4 linked regions of the Homo sapiens genome follow. The protein of the gene in region 1 interacts with the protein of each later gene in a pairwise test. Each region holds a gene or a part of one and is shown in the gene's direction. Other genes may lie near its edges. The genes, in order: CTNNAL1, DMD, USH1C and DTNA.

The links.
Region 2: the proteins of CTNNAL1 (region 1) and DMD interact in binary tests that used the Homo sapiens proteins (3 or more experiments, as listed by UniProt).
Region 3: the proteins of CTNNAL1 (region 1) and USH1C interact in binary tests that used the Homo sapiens proteins (3 or more experiments, as listed by UniProt).
Region 4: the proteins of CTNNAL1 (region 1) and DTNA interact in binary tests that used the Homo sapiens proteins (3 or more experiments, as listed by UniProt).

The regions. Positions count from the first base shown.
Region 1 is NC_000009.12:108,942,068-108,947,520, reverse strand, and holds the end of CTNNAL1 (alpha-catulin), read left to right. Parts: intron 1-3,502; coding exon 3,503-3,559; intron 3,560-3,704; coding exon 3,705-3,818; intron 3,819-4,476; coding exon 4,477-4,560; intron 4,561-4,649; coding exon of another isoform or gene 4,650-4,667; exon of another isoform or gene 4,668-4,686; coding exon 4,687-4,752; 3' UTR 4,753-4,944; downstream 4,945-5,453. UniProt on the Homo sapiens protein: May modulate the Rho pathway signaling by providing a scaffold for the Lbc Rho guanine nucleotide exchange factor (ARHGEF1).
Region 2 is NC_000023.11:32,340,548-32,347,577, reverse strand, and holds part of DMD (dystrophin), read left to right. Parts: intron 1-1,497; coding exon 1,498-1,635; intron 1,636-4,291; coding exon 4,292-4,444; intron 4,445-4,727; coding exon of another isoform or gene 4,728-4,736; exon of another isoform or gene 4,737-5,211; intron 5,212-5,295; coding exon 5,296-5,478; intron 5,479-7,030. UniProt on the Homo sapiens protein: Anchors the extracellular matrix to the cytoskeleton via F-actin. Ligand for dystroglycan.
Region 3 is NC_000011.10:17,541,387-17,549,054, reverse strand, and holds the start of USH1C (harmonin), read left to right. Parts: upstream 1-4,638; 5' UTR 4,639-4,747; coding exon 4,748-4,783; intron 4,784-7,668. Other genes in the region: OTOG (otogelin isoform a precursor), read right to left, coding at 843-920, 1,509-1,682. UniProt on the Homo sapiens protein: Anchoring/scaffolding protein that is a part of the functional network formed by USH1C, USH1G, CDH23 and MYO7A that mediates mechanotransduction in cochlear hair cells. Required for normal development and maintenance of cochlear hair cell bundles.
Region 4 is NC_000018.10:34,811,285-34,818,314, forward strand, and holds part of DTNA (dystrobrevin alpha), read left to right. Parts: intron 1-674; coding exon 675-829; intron 830-4,624; coding exon 4,625-4,730; intron 4,731-6,677; exon of another isoform or gene 6,678-6,879; coding exon 6,880-7,030. UniProt on the Homo sapiens protein: May be involved in the formation and stability of synapses as well as being involved in the clustering of nicotinic acetylcholine receptors.

The DNA.
Region 1 (5,453 bases):
CCAAGAGCATTCTTGTGTGTAAATTTGAAATTTCTGTCACTTTATCACTCATATAGTCTCCTTTGGCATTCCCATGTACATCTGAGATTTGAAATTTCTATCACTTTAGGCCAGGCGCGGTGGCTCACGCCTGTAATCCCAGCACTTTGGGAGGCCAAGGTGGGTGGATCACGAGGTCAGGAGATCGAGACCATCTTGGCTAACACGGTGGAACCCTGTCTCCACTAAAAATACACAAAATTCGCTGGGTGTGGTGGCGGGCACCTGTAGTCCCAGCTACTTGGGAGGCTGAGGCAGGAGAGTGGCGTGAACCCGGGAGGCGGAGCTTGCAGTGAGCTGAGATCACGCCACTGCACTCCAGTCTGGGTGACAGAGCAAGACTCCATCTCAAAAAAAAAAAAAAAAGAAAGAAATTTCTATCACTTTATCACTCATATAGTTTTATTTGGCATTCTGTGGGAAAGGGATTTCAGCTTAAGAGGATGATTGTCAACATAATCAGAAGTATTATAGAAAATGTGTCTTCTGGATTTTTCTGTAAAGCAGACTATAAATGAGCTATTTCCCTTAAGATAGTTGAAATTCTGAATTTATTTTTTTTTTCAGTTTGGCCCAAGTCCATTCTGTCATACCGCCCTGTAGGGGTGTTTTACTACAAAAGATCCACTACTTACCTTCTTCCTATGTGAGCTTAGTCATTAAATCAATGTTCAATGAATTGTCTCCAAACTGTGATGAACATAAAATTGCATACTTCATTCAACAAATATTTATTGAACTTGTGCTATATGTCAGATCTGGGAGAACAGAGCTCTGTGGAGAAAAGTGAACAAAGCAAAGCTCCTGCCCCCATAGAGCTTATGTTCTAATGGCAGAATATAGACAATAAGAATTTAAGCATTCAGTGCACATATGTAAGTACTTGGAGATAAAATCACGTACGACTAGAATACAGAGGTGATAGAGGGGTGGTCAGAAAAGACCTCTCTAAGGAGCCAGTGTTTGAATAGAGACAGTAATGAAGTGAGAGTTGGATGGATAAATGTGGGTAGAGGATTTTAGATAGCCAAAACAAGTGCAAAGCCCCGAGGTGCAGGGGTAGGGCTGGGTGTATCAGAAGAGTAAGGAGGCAATTATTGATGGGAGTGAAGTGAGCCAGAAGGAAAGGGGTAAAATATGATGTCTCTGTAGGCCATGGGAAGGACTTTTTTTTTTTTTTTTTTGAGACTTAGTCTCGCTCTGTTGTCAGGCTGGAGTGCAGTGGCACGATCTCGGCTCACTACAGCCTCCGCCTCCCGGGTTCAAGTGATTCTTCTGCCTCAGCCTCCCGAGTAGCTGGGACTACAGGTGTGCGCTACCACGCCCAGCTAATTTTTGTATTTTTAGTAGAGACAGGGTTTCACCATGTTGGCCAGGATGGTCTCGATCTCTTGACCTTGTGATTCGCCCGCCTCAGCCTCCCAAAGTGCTGGGATTACAGGCCTGAGCCACTATGCCCAGCTGATCCTATTATGTTTTAAGTAAGGTTTTTGGCTTGGCCAACAGAGTGAGTGGTAGTGCCATTTTCTGAGACAGGGAACACTGAGGGAGAACACTAGATTTAGAGGGTGGAAATCGAGCATTTTGTTTTGCACATGTTAAGTACAAAGGTCAGATAGGATATACACTTGGCCCTCCCTATCTGCAGGTTTTGCATCTGCAGATTCAACCAACTATGGATTGAAAATATTCAAAACAGTAAAAACAGTCTGGGCACAATGGCTCACTCCTGTAACCCTAGCACTTTGGGAGACCAAGCTGGGAGGATCACTTGAGTCCAGGAGTTTGAGACCAGCTGGGGCAACATAGTGAGACCTTGTCTCTACAAAAAAACAAAACAAAAAAAAAAAAAACTAGCGGGGCATGGTGGCACACACCTGTAATCCTAGCTACTCAGGCAGCTGAGGCAGGAGGATCGCTTGAGCCTGGGAGGTCAAGGCTGTAGTGAGCTGTGATCACACCACTTCACTTCACTCTGGACAACAGAGTGAGACCCTGTCTCAAAAAAAAAAAAAAAAGGAAGAAAACCAATAAAATATAACAACAGTAAAAAAAAACAAAATACATTTTAAAAGGTTAGAGTTCCAAGGGAGGGAAAACAATACAGTATAACTGCGATTTACTTAGCATTTACATTAACTTAGATATTATAATTTAGAGATGAGATGATTTAAAGTTTATGGGATGATGTGTGTAGGTTATATGCAAATACTACACTGTTTTATTTAAGGGACTTAAGCATCTACAGATTTTGGTATCCTTGGGGAGGTCTGGGAACCAATCTCCCATGGATACTGAGGGATGACTGTACAAGACTGATGTCAGGATAGTTCAGGAGTGGAGAGAGAGACCTGGGAGTTACCAGCTTTCAGGTAGTTTTAAAACCATCATACTGTATGAGACAGACATGGATTTTGTCCCCAAGGGGTTTGCAGGCTAGAAGGAAAGAGAAAATTTGCAGAATAGAAAGTGGTAACATGAAGTGATAAGGAACACTTGGGGAAGTGAATCATTTCATTTGGTTGGAGTCTAGATGTAAAGCTTACTGGTTTCCCTTTTAAAGGGAAGGTTGCAAAGTACGATTTGACCTTGAGATCATTTTATCCAGTGATAGCAAGGTGTTAAGCCTTTTGAATAGAGGGTAAAAATTAACCCTGGAATTATTGCCTCCTCCTTCTTAGTATTCTTTAATTTATTATGAAGACCTATTATTTTCATTCACAAACCACTCTCAGATTTTCCCTGTTCTCTCCATTATTACTGACGCCACCTAAAACTAAGCCTTCCTCCCTTTACTCCCCTGGCATCTCACTCTAAAATAGTCTGCAAACCATTTTAACATAATATGCTAAATACTTCTGTCTTACCTGTACAACCTTCTTTTTCACTCTACTTCTCCATCATCCTGTTCATCTCATTAAATTATAGAATTCATGGTACATGGTGAATAGTGAAAATTAATCTGAAAAAAAGTGGCAACAAAAACCAACCACCTGGATTGGTTCTCTCAAATGTCTGGTTATGGAATATGTATGGGTGACAAATTTTGTCTTGCCTAGATGGAATTGGGAAGGTCCTAACCCTTTTGACCTCATGCTTGAAAATTCATCATCCTTTTATAATTGAGCATATTTGAGATGAGCTCTAGGTCCCTTGCGTAATCTAGACATAATTTGTGTGGCTGAATATCACAGGTCTGTGTGACCCTCCAGAATAATTGGAGGTCTGGTGTAGAGAAGCCTCTCCAGGGATGGATTCTGCATCTGGTCTGTGGAAACTCCTTCTGAAAACAGTTAAACCCTTGTGCATTCCTGGTACTGGAAAAAGTTTAGGAGTTCCTGACAGACTTTTTATATCTAGGCTTTATTTTTAAAATTCTACGTAAAAATTATTAGTAAGTATATTTCTTACCAACTATCCATAGACATCAGTCTAAAATAGTGGTGTTTTCTCTTTCTACCAGGTTTTTGCTGCAGAGGGTTTAAAGCTTACTTCCAGTGTTCAAGCTTTTTCAAAACAGGTAACACATGTCTACCTACCTGGAGCTGGTGGTGGTATTATGTATAACCTACTTTGGGGGTATAATATCAATGTATAAATGTGTTTAAGGTATTAAAGATGGAGTTTTGTTGCGGGCTGTTATAACTTGTTAAATTACATTTCAGCTGAAAGACGATGACAAGCTTATGCTTCTCCTGGAAATAAACAAGCTAATTCCTCTATGCCACCAGCTCCAGACAGTAACTAAGACTTCTTTGCAGAATAAAGTATTTCTAAAGGTAAAAGAGACATATGAAAAACTTTCACACATCTATCTTTATCTGGTTAAAGCCCCTTTTTCTTCAAATAAACTGTTAGTACCCACAGAAGGGCAATTTATTTCCTTTTTTCATGCCTTGTCTACAAGAATCATTTATTATCTACTCTCATAACTGACCCCAGAGAGTAGCAGATTCACCAAATAAAGTAGTTTTTTGGACATCATTAATTCCATAGCACTGAACAGCTGCCCTTCAATTCTGAAGTCATTACCTCTGCAACTAGGACACAGGTGCCTCCGAGTCTGGTCTCCCATAATTTGTCTGAGAGAATATGGGTTTGTGCCCACAAAATAGAGTGCAAGGAATTGCAAAGGATGGGATTTAATTCCACTATTTGGAGTGTTTTGAGAAGCCCCTAAACAGCCTGCAGTAGAATGATTAATTTTCCACCCACTCTTTCTGCTGGGGTTCCATGAGATAGACATGAAATCTAGGCAGCTACCCCTGCACCTGTGTCCTGGGGCTTTGAGTCAGCTCATGTGCCTAAATCCATATCTCTTTCAAGATCCCTTAGATTTCCATATGGAGAAATTTTATCATGTTAAAACTAAATAAATGGTAAGGTCTTTTAAGTACTACTTTTAGAATATCATTTGCATGCTTTTTGTCATTGTAGGTTGACAAGTGTATTACGAAGACAAGATCCATGATGGCTCTCTTAGTCCAACTTCTTTCACTTTGTTATAAACTGCTGAAGAAGGTGAGGTAGTTTTTCTATTTTAGACTCATACTTTAAAAAATGGTTTAAAAGAAAATAGTTACTACTTAATTTTGTAATTTTTTTTTCAGAGTGAAACCAGATACTAATTGTCTTAACTCTTTCCAGCTTCAGATGGAAAATAACGGATGGGTCTCAGTTACAAATAAGGACACTATGGATAGTAAAACTTGAGAAGCTTTTGGGGTCAGATCTCTGGAACATCATGTGATGAAGCTGACATTTTTAAAAATCAAATGATCCTTTATCTTTTCAGAAATTCATCAATTTTATAAAGAAAACAATATTGAAATTTTGCTCTATTTTCTGATCATGAAACTGATTGTAAAGCTTTTTGACAACTAATAAATGTCTTGGTAATTGCTAGATTCTAATTGTAGTGTGATTTTTAAAATAGAACATTGCACTAATGTTCTTTAAAAGTCAAACCAAATATCCCAACTGTCTCAAGGACAATTTAATCCACAAGAAGCTATTTTGAATATGTGCTTAGCTTTGGCATATTTTACCTTAACTGTTTTCTTTATCATCTAGATCACTAATGTCAGCAGCAAACATACAGTAGTCTGGGTGAATGCAGGGTTTTCCTTAAACCTGTGGACTCTTCAATCCCTCTGTTTACCAAGTGTGACAAAAATCCCCTTGATGACCCTGTCCCAGATTGTCCATGCCAGCAGCAAGTTTGTTCCCTAATAAGCATTTTGTACAGCAAGGGTGGGTCTGCTGTGCTGTGTATGTCCCTCACCTACTCCCAAAAGTAAGGTAATGGAACTCCACAGAATCCTGGAACAACTCCTGGAGAGTATGAGATGGGTTTTTGGTTCTAGTTCTAGCATAGCTGGCCAGTCTGCCCTGAATATTAGCTGGGATTCTAA
Region 2 (7,030 bases), on another chromosome or scaffold:
AGGAGAACTATTCCCACCAATCTTAGTTCCCACTTCCTGGAGCTGCCTCAATCAATACTCCCCATGTATGGGGTTTGGTGGCCTTGCCAACTCAGCTTGTGGAAAGACGGAAGAGGCTTTCCAAGTTGCTGAGTTACAGCAATCTCTACTTCAGGTCAAAGAAGAAACTAGAGGGCACCAAGATGAAAAAAAGTACTGATTACCTCTTGGGCTGACCCCAACTCTGCCCTAGAGCCCTCAACTGGTATAGGGAAAGAAGTGAAGTGGGTTTTTTAATTTTTTGTTGTTTTTGTCCTCAGCCCTAGAAAATGCTACAGACTTTTACAACACCTTTTAAAATAAGTAAAGTCTTTTACAGACTATAAGTATATGATGTGTCTATATTATGATAAGTATATAATGTGTCTATATTATGCCGTATGTTTCTTTAGATTATTGACCAGTCTCTGACAAAAATAATCCCTTTCCCCCATACAAAATGAATCAGTCCTCAGTTGCGTGTTGAAGTTTATGCATTATAGATTTAAATATATAACATCTAATTCCTTGAATTGTAATACACACATACAAATACTTGTGACTTTTGAAATTTATTATTTGTTTTCCTTATGTCATCAGTGTACCTTGAGTACCATTACAATGTGAGACTACTTGATACAAAGTTTTCACATTCTGAGTTGAAAGAAAGAAAACTAAAGGTGAAAAATCACATGGTCATATATGCGACTATATTAGACCAGCATTTATTCAAAACATTTTATTTCTAAGTAAAGAAAATTAAGATATTGTTCTTGCAGCCTAAAGGAACAAAATACCCATTGAAAATGTTTAAAGCCATTTTCCAGTCCATATTTTAGTATTATTTGATCGTATTTAAATTAACATGCATATATGACATATTTTAGAAATTATTTGATGGTAACTTAGCACATGATTTTTATTAATATCCTGATATTTCTCCTATTAATATTGAGCATTTAGGTTTCAGAAATGAAGCAGGAGTTATTAGATAGGAATTAGTGTACATTTAAATCAAAATATTTTCATGTAGTTGTGTGTTAATATTTTCAGATTTGCTGTTATCTCAGTCACAAATACACATCTGTATTCCTTTATGGATCAGTTAACATTATAAATGATAACTTTAGCTCATTTCTCTAATGTTTTAATTTCTAGAACTACACTAAAAAAGCCAAAAGAATACTTTCACAGTAATTCATGACTTGTCTGACATGATGAAGTACCACACTCCCCCATCTTTCTACAGGTGCCCCTAAAAATGTGTTCTTTACAACTAGATGGGAGGAAACTTATTTTGAAACCTCAAGTACCAAATGTAAAAGAAAGGCTATGAGCACAGTATCTTATAATAGCATTCCATGAAAGTTTTAAATTGGATTTTTGTGTGTGTTTAAATAACATGTCTTATTATCTCTGTTAACAATGTACAGCTTTTTAAAAACCAAAATGAAGACTGTACTTGTTGTTTTTGATCAGAATGAAGACAATGAGGGTACTGTAAAAGAATTGTTGCAAAGAGGAGACAACTTACAACAAAGAATCACAGATGAGAGAAAGCGAGAGGAAATAAAGATAAAACAGCAGCTGTTACAGACAAAACATAATGCTCTCAAGGTATTAGAGCTAAAATTATAATATACCTTGCCTGTGGTTTTTTTTTAATATATAGGGTAAAATATAATGTGCATTAATAAAATCTGCTTCAGACTTAGTCATCAGAAACTCACTTTTTCTGTTCAATGTGTATGCTTTATTTAACATTTTTGAGTGGTATTTGATTTTGAACGATGTGTTGCTTAAAAGTTATGGCTTTTTAAAGACATATTTTTCTAAGTAGTAATTGAAAGATGGGAATGCATTCATAGTACTTATACATTTAATTTTCTAATGTGCTTTATTTTTATCAGCTACTTTATATTGAAAAAAACCTGCCTAACTGCCAGAATAACCGATCTACATGTATCCATTATTCCTGCTTTCTTTACTTAATTGATTTTGCTTGCATTAGGTCCAATTTTTTGGTAACCTGATACTTGTTTAATAAGCCCTAGATTCTTTTATTTATTTTTAAAACTTTATTATGCCTTTAAGAAAGTCACTCTTTGCAACTATCTACAAAGTCAAATTTCATTTATGTAGGAATCCTAAAAAATAATCTTAGTGCCCTTGAATAAGAACTGCTACTTTCATATTAAGCAGTGTAGTGTATGGCTTCAAGTCCCCAGGTGACTCATCTGGTTTGTGCAGGAAGAGCAGGATAAACTTAATTTTTCTATAATAATATCTAGGAAGTTCTTGAGACTAGACATGTGGAAAGTTTTGTGAAACTTTTTTTTTGTATATGCTTTGCAATAATCACTATTTGCATGCATGGCTGATTTTCTAATACTTTTAATTGCTGAGCTTTTCCTTGTAAATCACTCTTTTGAGCTATGTAGTTATGAAGGTGGATCCACCTAGCAGGTAGATGGAGTCTGCTTTCTACATGCAAATAAGAGAATAAAACCTTTCCCCCTATAGTCAACCAAATAAACACTGCTGAGAATGTAATTACACAATATTGTGCCTGCAAGGAATCCACAAGGAAAGTCTAATTGGCCAGCAGGTGTTCTGAAGGTAACTGCTGATAAATATAGTAAACAGAAAAGGCCTCTTCCTCGAGGGAGTGCAAAAGCACACCATAATGTGTCTAGAAAATCGGAACGCTATGTAACTCACACCCTTCCAACTGTGAGCAAGCTTTCAGAAGTATCTACACTGGTCGTATGATGGTGTGTGTCCTACTGAATAGCAGTGTTTAATGGTCATCTGGCATTCCTCTAAAGAAATCTACATGACATCTCTAAATATTTTACATATTATACATCACTTTGTGCTTAGGAAATGAAAGATGTTTCAGATTGATGACCACCAAGCCCTTTCTCCTGGCAAAGATGTGAGTTATGTCACAAATAAGGCATGGCTCAACTCTAATTCACGTGGCTGTATCTTGCTACCTTTGAAAAAAGCAGCGTTCGATCTGACTCCTCAGAAGGTTTGAAAATTCAACATAAAACATAAAGTACAGCAAGGTTTAAATTCCCAATTTTAAACAAACTAGATAATGAAATGTAGTTCATTCTTGCAAATACAGGCTATAAGTGATTAATCAAAATCGTCAACACTACTCGCCAAACCAATCTATACCAACATATTCAATAACTTTTTAAACCTGTCAAATAGTTCCAATTCTGGTCCTTATGAAATATTTTAGAGAAGGTCAAAATTTTCCAATGGAATGAAATTTTTAGAAATTCCCTGATATTTATTATTTTTTCGCTCGAATTAAACCTGTGAATAAAACCCTAATTGCTACTTTCTGTAGAAATGAAAGCTGCATGCAGAGCTTATGTTCCCATGAATTATAAAATGGCATTTTGAGTAATTCTATTAATCACAGAAGATATTGAGTGTGCTTGTAAAGAGCATGATGACTGATTTCCTCCCATTGTTGATTTATTAAATTAGTCTTATCACATTGATTTGAAAGCATGCACTTGCTGTTTTCTTTTTTCAAATAGTTAATTGTTTTGCATTTAGAGCATGATTTGGTATAGTAAGATAAATGTGGCTATGCAAGCCTTGGAAGGAGAAGCATTTATCTCACATAATTTTTTATTAGTTATGTTCACCAATATACGAACAGTGGTGACACTTCTACACATACAGCTTGGAACAGTTTATAAGACAACTAAAATGGCTTTATATTTCTAATCATAAAATATTAATGGCCTATGAAACTCTTATGTAGGCATTTCTAAAAACATGAATGTATATTGGTTGAGTACATAAAGTTTTGTTGATGAGCCCCAAGGCTAAAGATATACATTTTAGAATTTTACCTATTTTAAGTCAGATACAAACTCACTAGGTTTGTGAGTTTGTATCTAGTTAAGTCAATTGTATTCGTATATTAAACTCTTGCACATAAACTACACAACAGTTAGCTCATTAAGAGTCAATTGAATGTGACAAAATTTTTAAGCAAGTTTGAACATGCTAAGAGAAAATACTTTAAGTGTGTTATTCAGGTTTCTTAGCTTCCTATACATGGGTCCCGCCTCATGCATAGGCAATTTAATTATGTCTTTGTATATTTTGCATTTAAATATGATTTTAACCTAAGTTGTACAAAAAGATGAGGGACGCAAATTATTTTGATAAATAACTGCAGCCAGAAGTGCACTATACATATATATTGATATTTTAATAATGTCTGCACCATGAACAGGATTTGAGGTCTCAAAGAAGAAAAAAGGCTCTAGAAATTTCTCATCAGTGGTATCAGTACAAGAGGCAGGCTGATGATCTCCTGAAATGCTTGGATGACATTGAAAAAAAATTAGCCAGCCTACCTGAGCCCAGAGATGAAAGGAAAATAAAGGTAATGTTGTTTTAGAATGTCAATACCAGATTTTATTATACAGTTTAATTAACCTGTGAAGATCATATTTAAAATGTTGATGTTCTTGTTTCTATTAACGTTCTCTTTGATTTGATGCATTTCCTTGTATTGTGTGTTGTTTTCAGTAAATGTATTGTATTAAGTGTTATTCAATTGACGTAATGTTGAATGAATAAAATGTTTTAGACTATGTAAAGTGATTTAAGAAATGTGATGTGTTTTCTGGTAAAATTGTAATTGACTTTGTGTATCTTTGTTCCAGATGAACTAATGACTTATCGGTATATGGACGACTTCTTACTCATGTTAGCCCATTCATTTCATCAGAGCATCTTCACACATCAGTGTTCACTCTCTATAGATTTATTTGCATATTGTCTAAATATGTTTTTTTCTGTTATTATTTTACACTTTTTATTTTGCTTCATTCTCTGTTGAGTTCCTCAAACCTTTAAAAAGGAAATAAATAACTTATTCACTTACCCTCTAAATTATATTCTATGTGGACGGTCCCTAATAAATAATGAGTTATCACTCCAAATTGTTTCAAATCCCAAGACACCAGAGGAATTTAGAAGAAAGAAAATGTTAGACCAATTTCAATATTTACTTAATTAGAATATCTAAAACCAAGCATTCAAAGGATAACTGAAATAATATTTGGGTTATTGAGCGAGGATGACAGTCATGCCTTTCATATTTGTAAACTTCAAAGGATGACAATAAAGGGACAACAGCCTTTGAAATTTTGAGAGAAGTATTTGCTGCTTGCAAGTCGGTTGATGTGGTTAGCTAACTGCCCTGGGCCCTGTATTGGTTTTGCTCAATAGGAAATTGATCGGGAATTGCAGAAGAAGAAAGAGGAGCTGAATGCAGTGCGTAGGCAAGCTGAGGGCTTGTCTGAGGATGGGGCCGCAATGGCAGTGGAGCCAACTCAGATCCAGCTCAGCAAGCGCTGGCGGGAAATTGAGAGCAAATTTGCTCAGTTTCGAAGACTCAACTTTGCACAAATTGTGAGTTGTTACTGGCAAACCCACGTATGTGTTTGCAACTACTACTCTATTAACAGAGGCCTACTAATAAAAAAAAAAGAGACAAAAAATCTGGGTACAGTTTTAAACTTCTAATGTACATTCTGAAAGTGAGTGGTTTCCCTCACTTTGGGCTTCTGTAACACTAGTGCTTAATTTTGCCAATTAAAGACACAAGAAATTAACAGATAACAGGGAAAACCCCTTATCAAAAATGAAAATACATCTTAATTTTTTTTGCTACATCATTTTTCATAACATTGGCAATGTTAATTTGTCAATTTATCATACATTCACTTTACTTCAATGTCTAATCCAAAAAATATGTATTGCTTTCCTGAGATCATCCCATGCTGATTTTACTTTCTTAATGTATACATGATAAATAATAAATATTTCATGGTACATCTTATGTCAACCTGCATAAGCCATTATCTCATTGACTTGAAGAATAATAGCTTAATCCTCACACCTGGTTTAACTACTTAATGGGTTACAGTGCCCATAAAAGAACTGGATGCCTAGTAAGATGGTTGCTAATTGATTGCAGATTGAACAATATCAGATAATGTTATTACTGAAATGTTACCAGCCAAAACAAAAAGGAGTGACTGCTCTTCTTTCAAACAACTGAATGGAAAGTGTATGGTTCTCTCTTTAAAAAGGCGATTCAGAATTGTTAGCTTGGTCTCACTTCTTTATTTGTAGTAGGTATAAACCATAGAGGTTTTCTGACAGGTACATTTTTGTTCCTATTATTAACACTTGTAAGATGAAGAGGAATGATCATCATCTGTAATTATAGAAGAAAGTACTCCTCACAAAACCAGGATGTCAAAATCTGGAAACTAAGTCTTTATAGTTAAGTTAGGTTGAATTATATGAATCAAACAGATACTCAACCATTTTGCCCTATGTAAATAATAACTGCATAGGGTTCAGCCCATGTATGAGACTTCTTGGGAACTTCTTCTGTGATAGTGTCAGTTCCATTTAATTTGGTGTATATTTTTAAAATGTCAAAAGCAGTTACCATAACTTAATTTTATAAGCATATAAGGGAAGTATGTTGCATATTATTGTGACTTCTTTTAATACTTCAAGAAAATTAATAAATACACTGTTTTCTGTTAAATCTAATACCCTAAAGTTTAATAGCAGGTGAATTATTCTGAGCAATTGGAAGAATACGAGAAATAGCGAAACTGTATTGCATGTGAAGTCTAATTCCACCTGGCTGAATGTTTCAGCCTATTATCCTTCATATTAGATGTTATGAATGTAATGTGTCATAAATAACCTTACACTAACCAGCAAGCCTGTGTCTGCAGATGCAAAATGAAGCGAAAGATTAAGGCAATCAAAAAGAAAATTCTAATAAAATAGTTTCACCTCAATTTAATAGATCATTCAAGGGGGAGTCCTTTGCTTTGAATTATCTGACTACTAACTCATTTCTCCATTCCAATTTTCCCCAGGTCTTGACACACCCAATATGCAGGTTTAAAATTCGTTACAAACTAATCAAGTTGCT
Region 3 (7,668 bases), on another chromosome or scaffold:
AAGATGGGCAGTGGAATGGTCAAGACTCAAAGGATAGAGGCCGGGCTCAGTGGCTCATGCCTAATCCCAGCACTTTGGGAGGCTGACACAGAAGGATCACTTGAGGCCAGGAGTTCAAGACCAGCCTGGGCAACATAGTGAGACTCTGTCTCTACCAAAAAAATTGAAATTCAACCAGGCATGGTGGCACACACCTATAGTCCTAGCTACTCAGGTAACGGAGGCACCAGGATCACTTGAGCCCAGGAAGTTGAGGCTGCAGTGAACTATGATTATGCGACTGCACTCCAGCCTGTGTCACAGAGCAAGACCCCGACTCAAAAAAAGAAAAAAAAAGGCTCAAAGGATGAGTTCAGGGCTCTGCTTCTCAACCAAACCTTCCTTGCAACTTCCACCAGGTGGCCTAGTTTTTGTCTTGCCTGCATTCTTGAGGCTCCGCTCAGGGTATGGAGAGGAGCCTCTGACAGGGTTGAGGGCCTTCGCAGGCCAGTCAGGGAAAAGAGAACTCCATTCTTCTAAACGTCCATCTTTCTACTTTTACCTGCCAGAAGGGAGAGCTCAGCTCTCTCCTGAAAGAGCCCTGGTGCCCACCTCTCCTAAAAAAAAAAAAAAAAAAAAAAAAAAAAAAAAAAAAAAGAGTGGACTATAGACCCCCAAGAGATTAAAAAGAATAGAAGGGTTTTATGAACTTGCACACCTCAGACACATACCAGGAATCTGCTTGTTCCTTTCTGAACAACTCCAGAGACCCCTCCTGTAACCTACAGAGCTCCCTGCCAGCCTCAGATCCAGATAGACATGAGCTCCTGCTCAATGAAGCCCCCTCCCAAGACCTCCCTTACCTGGCCTCCCACGACTGTAGCCTTGTCCCCCATGGCAAGGGTCGCCTCCTGGTGGCTGCTGCTGGAGGAAACACGAGTCTGGCATGGATGGGGGGCTAGGATGGGTTATGCCTCCCCGCAGTCCCCTGGCCTATCCCACCCTAAGTGCTAAAGCCCTGGGGTCGCTGATGCCAGAAATACGGATGGGAGCTGTGGGTGGGGCCGCCACAGCTCACACCTACTCACCTGGGTTGCCCGGCTGGCTCTGGCTGTGGCTCTGCACTGCCCCACAGAACGGGTGCTGCGGCTGGGGAGGGGGATTATTCTCCACTCAAATTGTGCTTGTCTTTACTGGGGCCTCCCACCACCTGGCCCCCACTGCTAGAAAGCCTCTCCCACGCCACTGAGCATTCCCCCATTCTCCCTCCCTGCAGCCTTCTCAAATCCTTTCTCTCCCTTCCTGATGACCCTTCTCCAGCCAGGATCTCCCTGTTTACTCTCAGTCTTTGGCCCCCAGCTCTCTCTAGTTCCCCACCTCGGGTCTCTTCCACCCAGCCTAACTTTGGACTCTTTCCCCCGCGGTCATAGGCCTGCCTCTGTTGGCTTCGGGGTCCCTCCTCCCCTGACTGCTCCTCCTGGGTGTCCCTCTGCTCTCCCTCAAACCTCTCTTTCCTCCCTCTCTCCAACCTGCGCGGGCCCATTCCTCATTCCTTTAACGTTTCTCATTCCTCGAGCCCCCGACCTCCCTGAGTCCACAACCCTCTCACCGAGGCGCTGCACCCGCAGGGACTCGGCTGCCTGCTCACCCCAGGGCAGCCAGACACAAAGCAGCCAGCAGAGCGCAGACGCCAGGACTCCCATAGGGACACGAGGGGACCGGAGGACTTGAGCGCAGGGCCAGCCTCCCGAGGTGCCTCCCCGGGCTAAGGCAGGGTCACACCTCCACTCCGCAGCCGAGGTCCCTCTTGTTCTCATGCCCCAGGGCTCCCTCAGCCCCTCCTCCCAGGCTCTCAGCTCCTCCCCGAACTAGAGTGACAGGAGTACCCAGCTTATTACCATAATTTAGGCGCCTGTCCATAGCCTAGCCTCTGCTTTTCTTGGCCTGTGGCCACACCTCCCCAGGGGAGGCTGGATTCAGATTACTCAGCCCTAAATTGTCTAGGGAAGCATAGAGGCAGCCTATGCAACCTCCAGCTCCCCTTACCTGGGTCCTGGAAGCCCAATACCAGAGACGCAAGATGCAGGTATGAGTCTGGCCCTATCCTCTCCTTTTACAGAGGGCCATGCTGAGGCCCTGGGACATGCCACTCAGGGATCAGTGGTCAATAACAGAGCCTGCAGAGTCCTAGCCTATGTTCTCACCATGCCCCACCTCAGCTTCCACCTGGGTCTCCACATCCGTATCCTATGACCAGTTTTGAGCACCTCTAGGGAATGGATCATGCCTTAGTCCTCTGAATGCCCAGCACCAGCTCCTGCCCGAGCTCAGGAAATGACGATTGAATAATAAAAGTGTTTCATACTCCTATGTTATTGCCACCATCAAGGCCAAACTTTGACAAAACAACTTTATATGTGTGAACGAGGTCCACTGTCTGCCCAGGAGGAATTTTAAAATGGCAAAAACATGGGACTGAGCACCTGGGGAATCTGTACATCATTCACTTCGTCATCACTTAGGGAACACCAACTAGATGCTAGGTCTTACAGAGGATGATGATGATGGTGGTGGTGGTGGTCGTGGTGGTATTGGCCCCAGTAGACTTCTAGGCAAGGGTATAGATTTGAGATGCATTCATTCATTCATTCATTCATTCATTCACTCAACAAATTTGTTTGGCATTGATTCCATGCCATGCACTGTTCTAGGCATATAGTGGTAAATAAAGCAAACACAGCTATCTTCACACAGGAGGAAGCTGGGGGCACAGATAGGAAGATGAAGAGGAAAGAGCTAAGGATGGAGCCTTAAGGAATGCTGGTTAAGGAACAGGCAAAGACTGATTGTCTCCAAGGAAGCTTGAAACAAAAATTCATGAGAGAGGAGAACCAGGTCTCAATGCTATTCTCAAAACAAAGCAGGGGGCATTTTAAGGTGGAGGGAGTCTGTGGGGGTAATGGCCAATGTAAAATAAGGATTGGTGTGGCAGGTGAACAGCATTCCCCTGGATAAGGACATTCATTCACCTCTGCCAGGATTCTAAATACAAAATAAACAGCCATATGACATTCTTTTCCAATGTAGAGAATCAATGAAGTAAGTCGGAGGGGAATGCATTTTGTGTGGCCTTTTCTGGACCATTCAAAAATCCCACAAGTCTTTCCATTTTATCGCTGACTTAATAGTTAATGCTAAGGTGAGAAAACAGATCATATTTTAAGGTTCTTCTCCAAGAGGGATTTACATCTTAAACTAGGCAACAAAAATAGTGTGCTTGTAAAACTTCAGCTATTGGGGAGAGGGACGCAGAGGGGTGTTTAGGTGCCCCAGAGTTACAATTGTAAGTGGTTACCTGATGTAAGCTGCTGTCCATCTCCTTGCCCCTGCCCTTGACAGGGCACAAAGGGCTCAGGTGCCTCCCTGGGTTAAGTTCAGGCACAAGCCCCATACTTAGCCTCTGATTTACACATTTTTATCACCCCTCTCCTAGCCCCTCTTTCCTTTCATCTCTTTCCAGGCCTGGTTCATCATTGTCTTTGATGAATCTTTCCTTTCATTCCTTTCCAGGCCTGGTTCATCATTGTCTTTGCACCAAGCACTAGACCTAGGAGTTAAGCAAATGCTGACCAAATTGAATTAAATGAACCAGAGGGTCTGGGCCCTGGGTGAAGGTCAGCCATAGATCAAAATGTCACTGCCAGGCTCTGCCAGGCTTCGATGGATATGTGAGTGTGTTGGGTTTGGGTTTTGTTTTGTCTTGTTTTGTTGGGGGTGGAGGTGTTAGGGAAGGTGGGAGGGGAAATCAGTTGAGGGGGGCACTCTCACACACACTGATTCAGACCCCTGCGGCCCACAGTAAAACCCAGCCCTGTCCCCAAGGAATTCACAGAACAAGGATTGATTTCTCCCTGGTGGAAAAGTGCAGGAGGAAGCCAGGACTGAAGGTACGCTGGAGGTGAGGGCGTAGCAAGGGCTGACAGTCCAGGAGGGCCATGAACCTCGACAAGAGTATCCAGAGAAGGCCGGGCGCGGTGGCCCGCGCCTGTAATCCCAGCACTTTGGGAGGCCGAGGTGGGCAGATCACGAGGTCAGGAGATCGAGACCTTCCTGGCGAACACGGTGAAACCCCGTCTCTACTAAAAATACAAAAAAAAAAAATTAGCCGGGCGTGGTGGCGGGCGCCTGTAGTCCCAGCTACTCGGGAGGCTGAGGCAGGAGAATGGCGTGAACCCGGGAGGCGGAGCTTGCAGTGAGCCAAGATCATGCCACTGCACTGTAGCCTGGGCGACAGAGCGAGACTCCGTCTCGGGGGGGAAAAAAAAAGAATATCCAGAGAAAACGGACTAGATTGCCCCGCCCCCCGCCCGTGTAAATAGTTTCCGTATCTCTCTATTCCGGTCCCCACAAAAAAGTCCCAAACCTCCTCCCTACGTCTCCACGATCTTCTTCCTCAAACGCATGTGTTCAGGTACCACTTCCAGAGAAATACCAGCTTGAAGCCCAGCTACTGCCACCTCAGGCCCATAGGCACACTGGGGCCCATTTGCTCCCAGGCTTCAGTGGGAGGCGACGACTCAGCACCTTCGACTCCAGCCTCGCAGCGGCCCCGCCCCACAGAGGCCTGGCCCCGCCCCTCCGCGCTCAGGCCCCGCCCCCAGCTCCGAGGGCGGCTGGCCCGGTCGCGGTCGCGGCTCTTTCCAGCTCCTGGCAGCCGGGCACCCGAAGGAACGGGTCGTGCAACGACGCAGCTGGACCTGGCCCAGCCATGGACCGAAAAGTGGCCCGAGAATTCCGGCATAAGGTCAGAGCTGCAGGGCGCCCCAGGCTTCTGGGACTCCGGAGTCCTGGGCGCGGTGGGTAGGGGGTGGACACCCCGGCACTGCCCCTCCCTTTTCCGGCCCCACCTGATGGCTCTGGTTGGGCTGGGACACCCGAGGGTCGTCTGGCTGGCAGCAGGGATCCCCAGTAAAGTGAGGGAGGGAATGCGGGGACTCCCGGCTCAAGGACTGCTAAACGAGTCGATCTTCTGCCAGCCTTTCTCCCTCTGCCTTCCAGGGGCAGGGACGTCTCTGGGGTTTGAATTCCTTCCAGTCTTGGCCGCTTTTCTGAGGTGCCCCCTTTGTGGGCAAGCCCCTCTCCTTCCTAGTGCCCCCAGCTCAGGGCTGTTGAGGCATGTGGAGACAGTCTGGGGCAGTATCTGAGAGGTGAGGGTTGGGAGAAGGGAAACTAGACGTCTCTCTCTCTGCCTTTTGACCTCAGAACATGAGTTAGAAGCATTTCAGCCCTGCCTGCCTAAGGGCGTTTCTTAGGGTCTGAGAAGTAGCTGAGGAGCTGGTGCTGACCCGGGTGCGGTGGGGAGGAAGGGAGGAGGTACTGAGGGCGTCGGAGCTGGGCTCTGGCCGGCCAGATCCTTCAGGCAGAGCCGGGTCCACCCTGGTGTGTCCCAGTGAGGGGCCTCACTGGTGGTCTGGGATTCTCAAGGACCATCTCTGGAAGTGGCCAGGTTTCACACAGGGCATTTCGAGAATGATTCACAAAGCTGTGCAGAATCTGCTGAGGCCCTGAGACCAGAGAGGGCCATCAAAGAGATCCAGCCTACTTCCCCACCAAGTCTTAGGATGCCTCTGAGTCTGGGGATGAAGCCGCTTGGGGGGGGTGGGTGGTATCTGGAGCTCCCCACAGGCCCTGCCTGAGGGGCAGGTAACTATTGATAACTTAACTATTGATAACTGTGTGACCCAAGGCTCTCCCAAAGACCCCAGGGGCAGTGTCTTTAGACCAAGCCAAACCTCTTCCTGGTTTGAGAGCTGAGCTCAGGTAGGGCAGGTCAGGGTGCTTAACTCCTTCCTTCCCATAAAGAGGCCCATAGGAGCCCAAGGAGCTAGCCAGTGTAGGGGCCACAGGGGCTTGGGGCCAAGGGCCCGGGGTCAGTTATTCATTTAATAAGCATGTTTTGAGCATCCTCTCAGCCATACCCAGTCTGTGCCCTTTGCTGGTGGTGTAGGTGGGAGGCAGACCCTACCCTGGTAATTACCCATGTCTGAGTGCTGCGTGTTGAGGCCAAGCTTTTGTAGGGGCACAAAGGGACAGCTCAAACTGGCAGAAGGCTCCTGAAAACAAGGTCTTGGGCATTTCTGGTCCTGCTCCCAGGGGTGGGTGATAGCTGGAAGTTCAGCAGGAATTTAGGGGCTGGCGAATACCAAGGGGAGCTTGAGAGAGCATTCACTGTTACATCCTGTTGCAAAGAGACATGTCGGAAGAAATTTCAGCCACTAAGGACATTTTGTGAGTGTAGATTTCAGGCAACCCAGTTTGAAGGAGCTCAGCCTTCCATCCCCCAACCCAAGACTCAGGGTTGAATTTCAGTTTCCTGCCCCTGGCCTGAAATAACATCAGGTCTTCTGCCTTCACTCTGTGGGGTACCTGCTCTCTCTTTTTTGTGAGAATCATCTCCAGGGTCCCTGGTGTCTGATGCAGATCCTGGGTTTGCCCTGTTCCTCTTCCCCAGGTCCCACAGGCTCCAAAGGGCCTCAGACCTCCACGTTTCCTCTGCCCTACTCTTCCTCATCGCAACAGTCATTACTTATTAATATCCCTGTGTGCAGGCAGGGCAGGCGCCATGCGCTAGGCAAGGCCCAGGCTGGACTTTGTGCCCTGCTGCCTTGGAGACAGCCACAGCCTTCCCCTCCCAGGTTGGGGATCATCCAGGAACTGGGGAGAGAGGATGAAGCACAGAGGATAGAAAGGAGGCACACAGACATGCTGGGAGAAATTTACAGCTTGCTGTTGTTTGCTTTGTAGGGGTCCCTTCCTTAGTGTTTTGGAAGAAATGGTTTGTGATCTAAATCCTTAGTTGTTGGAAGTAATATTTAAGGTAGTGTGTTATAATGGAAAGTGCTCTGTGACCTTGAGCAAGTTACTTAATCTCTCTGTGCCTCAGTGCTCTTACTTGTGAAAAGAGATAACAATATTTAACGAATAAGGTTACCATGAATGCTGAATGAGACCTACATGTGTGTGGGGAGCTTAAATAGACCCTGGCACTTAGGGAGCTCTCAAGAAATGTCCATGTTGATTATTATCTGGAGTTAGCAGAACTGGGACCAAATCTTAGCCCTGTCACTGTCAGGAAGACCTTGACCAAGCCACCCACTCTCCCTGAGTTTTAGTTTCTTCAGCTATGAGATGGAGTTTGTAGAACTTACCTCACAAGACAGTCAAAACTAACTAGCAATTAAAGTACTGGCTGCTCTGGGCCCACAGTAACCACACTGTTTCCAGCTGATACCTGCAGAGTGTCCAGTGGGAGCCAACAGGCTCCAGGCATCGACTCCCTTTGATTTGTGAAGTTACCCCAAGGCCGCCAGGAGCACTTGCATACCCTTCCAGTAACTAGTAGCAACCTTGGGCCAGGATGTGGGGGAGCAGGGCTTGGTCAGAGACTGTTTTCTCCCTCAGAGAACCAGCTTTCAAAGGGAGACTGCTCTTCTGTTCGCAGCACCAGCACAGGGTAGGAACTTGGTTACTCATTGGCTTAAAAGTATTTATTGCCTCTTCAGCAATCATGCATTTATGAGCATAGCTGTGTATTCTGCCTGAGGCCAGGCATCTGACAACCGGTTGGGATGAATAAGATCAGAAAGAGCCACCACTCTCTAGGAATTTGTTAATCATTCATTTATTCAC
Region 4 (7,030 bases), on another chromosome or scaffold:
GACCCTGACTTTACCTCATTGATCATCCACAAGACCAGGCTTCCTCTTCACTACACGAGTCAGAAAACCCTTCCCTGTAAATCAAGTGCCTTCCACCCAGAAAACTGTAATTCATAGAAAGTTTTCTTCTTCTGTAGGAAGTTAATCAAGTGTTTGTCATTACATCTTTATCCTCACCGTGTCTTTGATTTTCAAATATCTTACACCAAAATCCGAAAGTTTTAGTGATAATATAAATTGGTAAATTTCTAGCTAGATAAATGAATATACGCACACCCCAACTTTATAGTAAAACTCTCATTGTGTTTCAAATGAAGTCAGCGTCTCTCTCATATATACAAAAATTTCTCTTGTTGAGCTACATGAGAGTTAATAGTTGACCTCAAAACAAAAATGTAGTGTCTTATTAAAGACATTTAATAAGTGTCTCTCTCATTAAAATGTTAACTTTACCCAAATTACTTGTGATTGCTATGTGCCAGAATCATCTACAAAAAGAAACCAGAGAAAACATTATGCCAGGAATATTTCAGCATAAAAATTAGCTTTTATATTATTCTTTCATAAAAAATGTTTATTTTGCTACTTTTTTGTCATTTGTAGCAGATATATTGAACAAAAACAGTGGAGAATGTTCATGTGATGAATAATATCTTTCCTTTTCCTTTCATCAGATATTTTCTCAATGATTTCTGACTCCAGTGGGGTGATGGTTTATGGACGATATGACCAATTCCTTCGGGAAGTTCTCAAACTACCCACGGCAGTTTTTGAAGGTCCTTCATTTGGTTACACAGAACAGTCAGCCAGATCCTGTTTCTCCCAACAGGTAGGAGAAAAATATGTTTAAGGAAGTATCTCTTTCAAACAGTGGTTGCTCTCCTTCTAGATGTCATTCCAGGTCACAGATACTCAGACAAATTATTCTGTGTGATAGCAACCTGTATTGTATTTTTCAGCCTCTGGCAAATGACCTCTGAGCCAGTAACTAAACCCAGCACATCTGGATCACAATAATAGACAGTGTTTACTGACCATGAGGCAGGCACTGTGCTAAATTTTTTCCTTTCATTGTCTAATTTAATCCCTACAACAACCCTTCTGTGTTAGTCTCTTTTCACACTGCTATAAAGACATACCCGAGACTGGGTAATTTATAAAGAAAAGAGGTTTAACAGACTCACAGTTCCGCCTCAGGAAACTTACAATCCTGGTGGAAGGTGAAGGGAAGCAAAGACCTACCTTCTTCACATGGCGACAGGAAAGAGAAAGAATGAAAAGCCCAGGGGAATCTGCCATTTATAACACCATCGGATCTCCTGAGAACTCCCTCACTATCATGAAAACAGCATGGGGGAACCACCCCATGATCCAATCACCTCCCACCAGGTCTCTCCCTCAACACCTGGGAATTACAGTTCAAGATGGGATTGGGTGGGGACACAAAGCCTTACCATATCACCTACACCCTCAGTGTCATTATTTTTACTATCACTGCACTTTCAAAAGGGCTTAATTGTCTCACTCAGCCTCATGTGAAATATATGCTTGACCCGGCAACAAGCTTTAACATTGGTTTAGCAAAGGATACCAGAAAGGAATCCCAACATCTGCCACATCATGACCTGAGAGGCCCAAAATATGGTAAACACAGCTGCCTGAATCTTCTACAGCATGACACATTTGGGGTTCCAAGTGATGTGTTTTAACTGGGTATGGCTCAAGCTACCCTGGGAAGCTGCATAGTTTAGGGGGCTATCTATGTGTGTACCTCTCTGGTCATGTAGAGAGACTCCAGGCCCATTCTCCAGCGTAGCCCAGTGGTAGCATAGAAATCCATACATTAAAGGTTAGTTTACCATTTTTTGAGAATCCAAACTAACTTTTTTGTCCTCTAAAAATGCCTCTTGACTGGGTGTGGTGGCTCACTCCTATAATCCCAGGACTTTGGGAGGCCGAGGCTCAGGAGCTCAGGAGTTCAAAACCAGTGTGAGCAACATAGGGAAACCCCATTTCTACGAAAAATTTTTAAAACATAGCCAGGCATGGTGGTACATGCTTGTAGTCCTAGCTTCTCAGGAGGCTGAGGCAGGAGGATAGCTTAAGCCCGGATGGCGCCACTGCATTCCAGCCTGGGCGACAGAGCAAGGCCCTGTCTCAAAAAAAAAAAAAAAGGTATATCCCTGCCCCATAAAATGCATACAACAAATGCTCACTACACAGCTTTATGGATTAAGAGTCAGGAAGTCTTTTCTTTTTACTGAAATTAACTTTTAAAAGTGTCAATAGGCCGGGTGAGGTGGCTCACTCCTGTAAGCCCAGCACTTTGGGAGGCCAAGGCGGGCGGATCACAAGGTCAGGAGTTTGAGACCAGCCTGTCCAATATGTTGAAACCCCGTCTCTACTAAAAATACAAAAATTAGCCGGGCATGGTGGCAGGCACCTGTAGTCCCAGCTAGAAGCAGGAGAATTGCTTGAACCCGTGAGGCAGAGGTTGCAGTGAGCCAAGATTGTGCCACTGCACTCCAGCCTGGGAGACAAAGCAAGACTCCATCTCAAAAAAAAAAAAAAAAAAAAAGTCAATCACTTCAAAACACAAATCTATTTTTTCATTCAATTTTACTGCTTTCCAACTTTTCTCATGGCATGCTAAATGTATGGCTCCTTTTATTTTTACAGTGCTTTATGCCTCACAAAGTGAATTATCTGATTTATGGCTTGCAACAACCCTGTGACCTAACAAGGAAAATATGATTCTTTTTTAACAATATAAAGTTCATAGCTAGTGAGGGCAGGGGGCTGAGTTTTTAACTCTGGTCTTCTAATTCCATCTGTTAATGTTATTCTTGTGTTCTTGTTGTTGTTGCTTTTGTTTTGTGCACTTTCAGTTCATATTTACAAATATGCAGATGATCTGACTCAAGGAAATGTAACTACCTGTTGTATTACTTCACCCAGTCATGGAAACAAGAATAATTTCATTTATAACTGAATTCTTGAATTTTAGTTAGTGTATTATAGAATAATTGGTAAATGTGCTAATGCCTCAGAATATATGTCTCATTCAAAATCAGCTAGAATAATAGGACTGGGTTTTAAAAAAAAAATCTTAAAAGGACCTATGCTGGTGTGATGGCTCACACAGTAATCCTAGCACTGAGAGGCTGAGGCAGGAGGAGAGCTTGAGTCCAGCAGTTCAAGACCAGCCTGGACAACATAGTAAGATCTCATCTCTGAAAAAAAAAAAAAATTAAACAATTAGCCAGGTGTGGTGGCACACACTTATAGTCCCAGCTACTTGGGAGGCTGAGATGAGAGGATCCCTTTAGCCCAGGTGTTCAAGGTTGCAGTGAGCTATAATTGTGCCACTGCACTCCAGCCTGGGCAGCAGAGTGAGATCCTGTCTCTAAAAGAAAAAAAAAAGAGAAAAAAGGACCTATGTGTTCAAGAATTATATGTGATGTTGACATGTTCAAAATTCCTTTTGAAATATCCTATAGACTGTTCTGTTATATGATTTATATATATCCTTAATGATAAGCAACTTATACATGTTGAAATCATAATAGCATTGTTGGAAACTTCCAGGAGTGCTTTTTAGCAAGTATGACAAATAGTCAAAATGAATAAGATCATTTCAAATATGAAAAGAGGTAACACAAAAATAATAAGACCAGTTTATTTTTGTACTTAATGAATTGGCTATTAACAGCTACTCAAGAGTCTGAGGTAGGTAGGAGGAGGTAGGAAGACAGCTTGAGACCAGGAGTTAGAGTCCAGCCTGGGCAACATAATGAGACCCCATCTTTCAAGCAAATAAATAAAATATTTTAAAAAATAAATAAATAAAATTATCCCATCCCCTTTGATATTCTAGTTCAAAATTTCAAGTAGTGATTTTTGCATATAAATATGTATTTTTTTATTTATACCATTACAGTACATGTATTAATATAGCTTTCTTACTTTTATCATTTTGAAAGAAACTTATAGATACAATGCATTCCTTTTGTACATCCAAAAGGACCTGGATAGTGAGAAAGAAGCAGACTGAATTGAGAGGAATTATATATAAAGTAATAAAAGGAGCAAATTTTTAAAAATGTAGATGGTTCTGTCCTAACAGGATTCCCTCCTGCTCTTGTATAACAGAACCATTCACATTAACCACTAAATATTTAGTACTTAAGGAAGTTGAGGAAGCTCAGAAGGGAAGTTGTTCTATAAATTTAGAAGACTGACTGACAGGAAAATTGTAGAGTGAGCTATGATGCGTTCTTGAGTAAAATTCCATGGAGAATTTCCATTCTTTATTTTGCTTCATTATTTTTATACTGTCTTTCATATATACAAATGATGCTCTTGGAATTGTTTTTCTCCTGGTGATACTATTGACTCAGCCTCAGTGGAGAGAATTCAGTCCTATGTCTGCTTAGGTATAAAAAGCAAACGATGTTTTCAGTTCTAAACTAGTTTAATAACACATTTGGCAAGTTCTGTTTCTTCAGATATTAGACATTTATTGAGTGCTCTTTTGTTTCAGTCTCAAATGATATGATATTTACATAGCAGGTAAATTGAGATGATTCTCTGTCCTAAATTTATGGGGGGTTTTTTTATGCAGAAAAAAGTCACGTTAAATGGTTTCTTGGACACGCTTATGTCAGATCCTCCCCCGCAGTGTCTGGTCTGGTTGCCTCTTCTGCATCGACTAGCAAATGTGGAAAATGGTGAGTAGTTACTAAGGAGCAAAGGTGATTTTTTAAATTATTGAAATTAGGCCATTAGTTCTACAGTTAGTAAGCCCAGGCTGTTGTTTTAGGGAAGCCTATTTAGTGGCTCTTAGTTTTGTTTAGGGTAGAACTAACCCATCTCCCTGTTCGGGAAGGCCTTAAAGGACCACTGAAAAATTAGGACTGTCAGTTCCAAAAATAAATCTCATGGTCTTCTTCTCAATTACAAGTCAGGTGTGGTTAAAAGACTTGGCACGATAGAAGGCGAACTTCAACAAGGAGTGTGACATTATTTTGTATTTGTTTTAGATCCGAATTTCTCATATTTGCATACACGGTACTGATTATTTCTTCCCAGGCACTCAGCCAGAAATAGGTGGGAGAAATGAGAAAAAAAAATAGATGATAGCACCCTGTTAATCTTTAGTCATATGTTCCAGATTGTGAGCTTTCAATAGTTGTACTTACGTTAAAGATAAGAGTAAAATAACTTTCGTATCATGTCTTTTTTTAAAGCAAGTATTTCTAGGATAAAAGGAACTACTGTTGGCATATCCAGATTTAAATATGAAATACCATTTGGGGCAAAATTTACAGAAAATTAAACATGGAGCAGTTCAGTGCCTCCATCTAATCTTTAGGTGTTCCTACTTATTGTTCAATGTAACTCTGAAATTTCTCCAGACTTGACGAGGAAATAATTTAGTCTCTATCTCTTACTGAGATTTAACTTAAGTCTCTATATATTACTCAACTTCTGTGTATTTCTTTAATATACATTGCAGCTAAAGTTAGCTTAATTTTAAATTATCATTCAGAATTTTTAGCATCTGCCCTTATTTATCTGTTAGTTAGAAGTTATGAATTTATCCTGTTTTTCTCATGGAGAAAATTTAAAGAATGAATTTATTTTATTTTTTTGCAATCACTAACAATCATAGTTTTTTTATGTTTATCCATATGCAGAAGCGAAGAGCAATCAAGGTCCATGTTATTATGCAAAATGAGTTCACGTTACTGTTTACAGTTCTAGAACTAGTCATTTTCCAATCATAAAGCTATAATTTCTTTCGTTCTCTCTCAGCATTTCCTGCTGCAGGAGATCAGTTTCTTAGGCACCATCCCAGAACAGTTGTCCCTAGATTGAAGTCCCACTCTAGTCTTTCTCAAGAGCCGGGAAGAAAGGTTATGACACTTGTTTAGAAGACAATGCGTCCAGAGCTAGTTATGTCTTTGTTTTTACACTTTGCTTTTTATCTTCATTTATTATTATTTTCATTGTTTTTCCTGACTGGTTAGGCCGGAGAATAGCTTTACCAAAGGCAAGAATTGTTATTGTTGTTTTAGTATCTAGCTCATAGCATGTAGACAATTACTTGGATTTGATCACTTAAATCTAATATTTTACTTTGCTTCAAATCTAGTATTTTGCTTTGCCTGCTTTATAATTCAAATTTCCTACCAAAGAAAGTTAACCGTCTCTTGAGGCATTTGAATTATTTAGAACTGTTTTCAGATAATTTGCACATCTTTTTTAGGGCCCTATACACCTGCCTCAGGAAAGAAAAAAAAATCTGTTTGTCAGATGTAGGCAACACCACTCGTTAAGTAAGCCATTAGTCACTCTATTTTTTAAAAAATAACTTAATTATCTCATCCACACCAGTTTTCCATTCTCTGCCCATCTTCCTTTCTTTTTTCTTCCTCTCATTCTCCGTGTCTCTGATATTCGCTCTCTTCCCACTGGACAATCAGCATTCACCCCTTGTGCTTCTGAGTCTTCCAGTGAGCTGTGCTGGTCTCCTGGAGACAGAGAGCAGTTTGGGGTAAAGGCAAGTCTGTTTGGCTAATTTAAATTCTTGTAATGTGAGAGATGGGAATAGAAAGAGCAAATGGCATTACAGAGATTTTTGTTGTTAAAAGGACACCTCTTCTCCATCCCATTTCATTTCATTTCCCCACAGGCATGATTGAAAAGGGTTGTAAGATTCCAGGAATGAACTAAATGTTTCTCTGAGCCCAAATCAACTATCATCTGAAATCGTGGTGCAGAGAAGAAAGGTGCAATTCCTGTAAGGCTGTATTTTTCCTTCTTCTGGTTCATACTTTTGTTTTCTTGGTTTTTCTTCACTTACTTCCCCCTTAGTCTTCCATCCGGTTGAGTGTTCCTACTGCCACAGTGAGAGTATGATGGGATTTCGCTACCGATGCCAACAGTGTCACAATTACCAGCTCTGTCAGGACTGCTTCTGGAGGGGACATGCCGGTGGTTCTCATAGCAACCAGCACCAAATGAA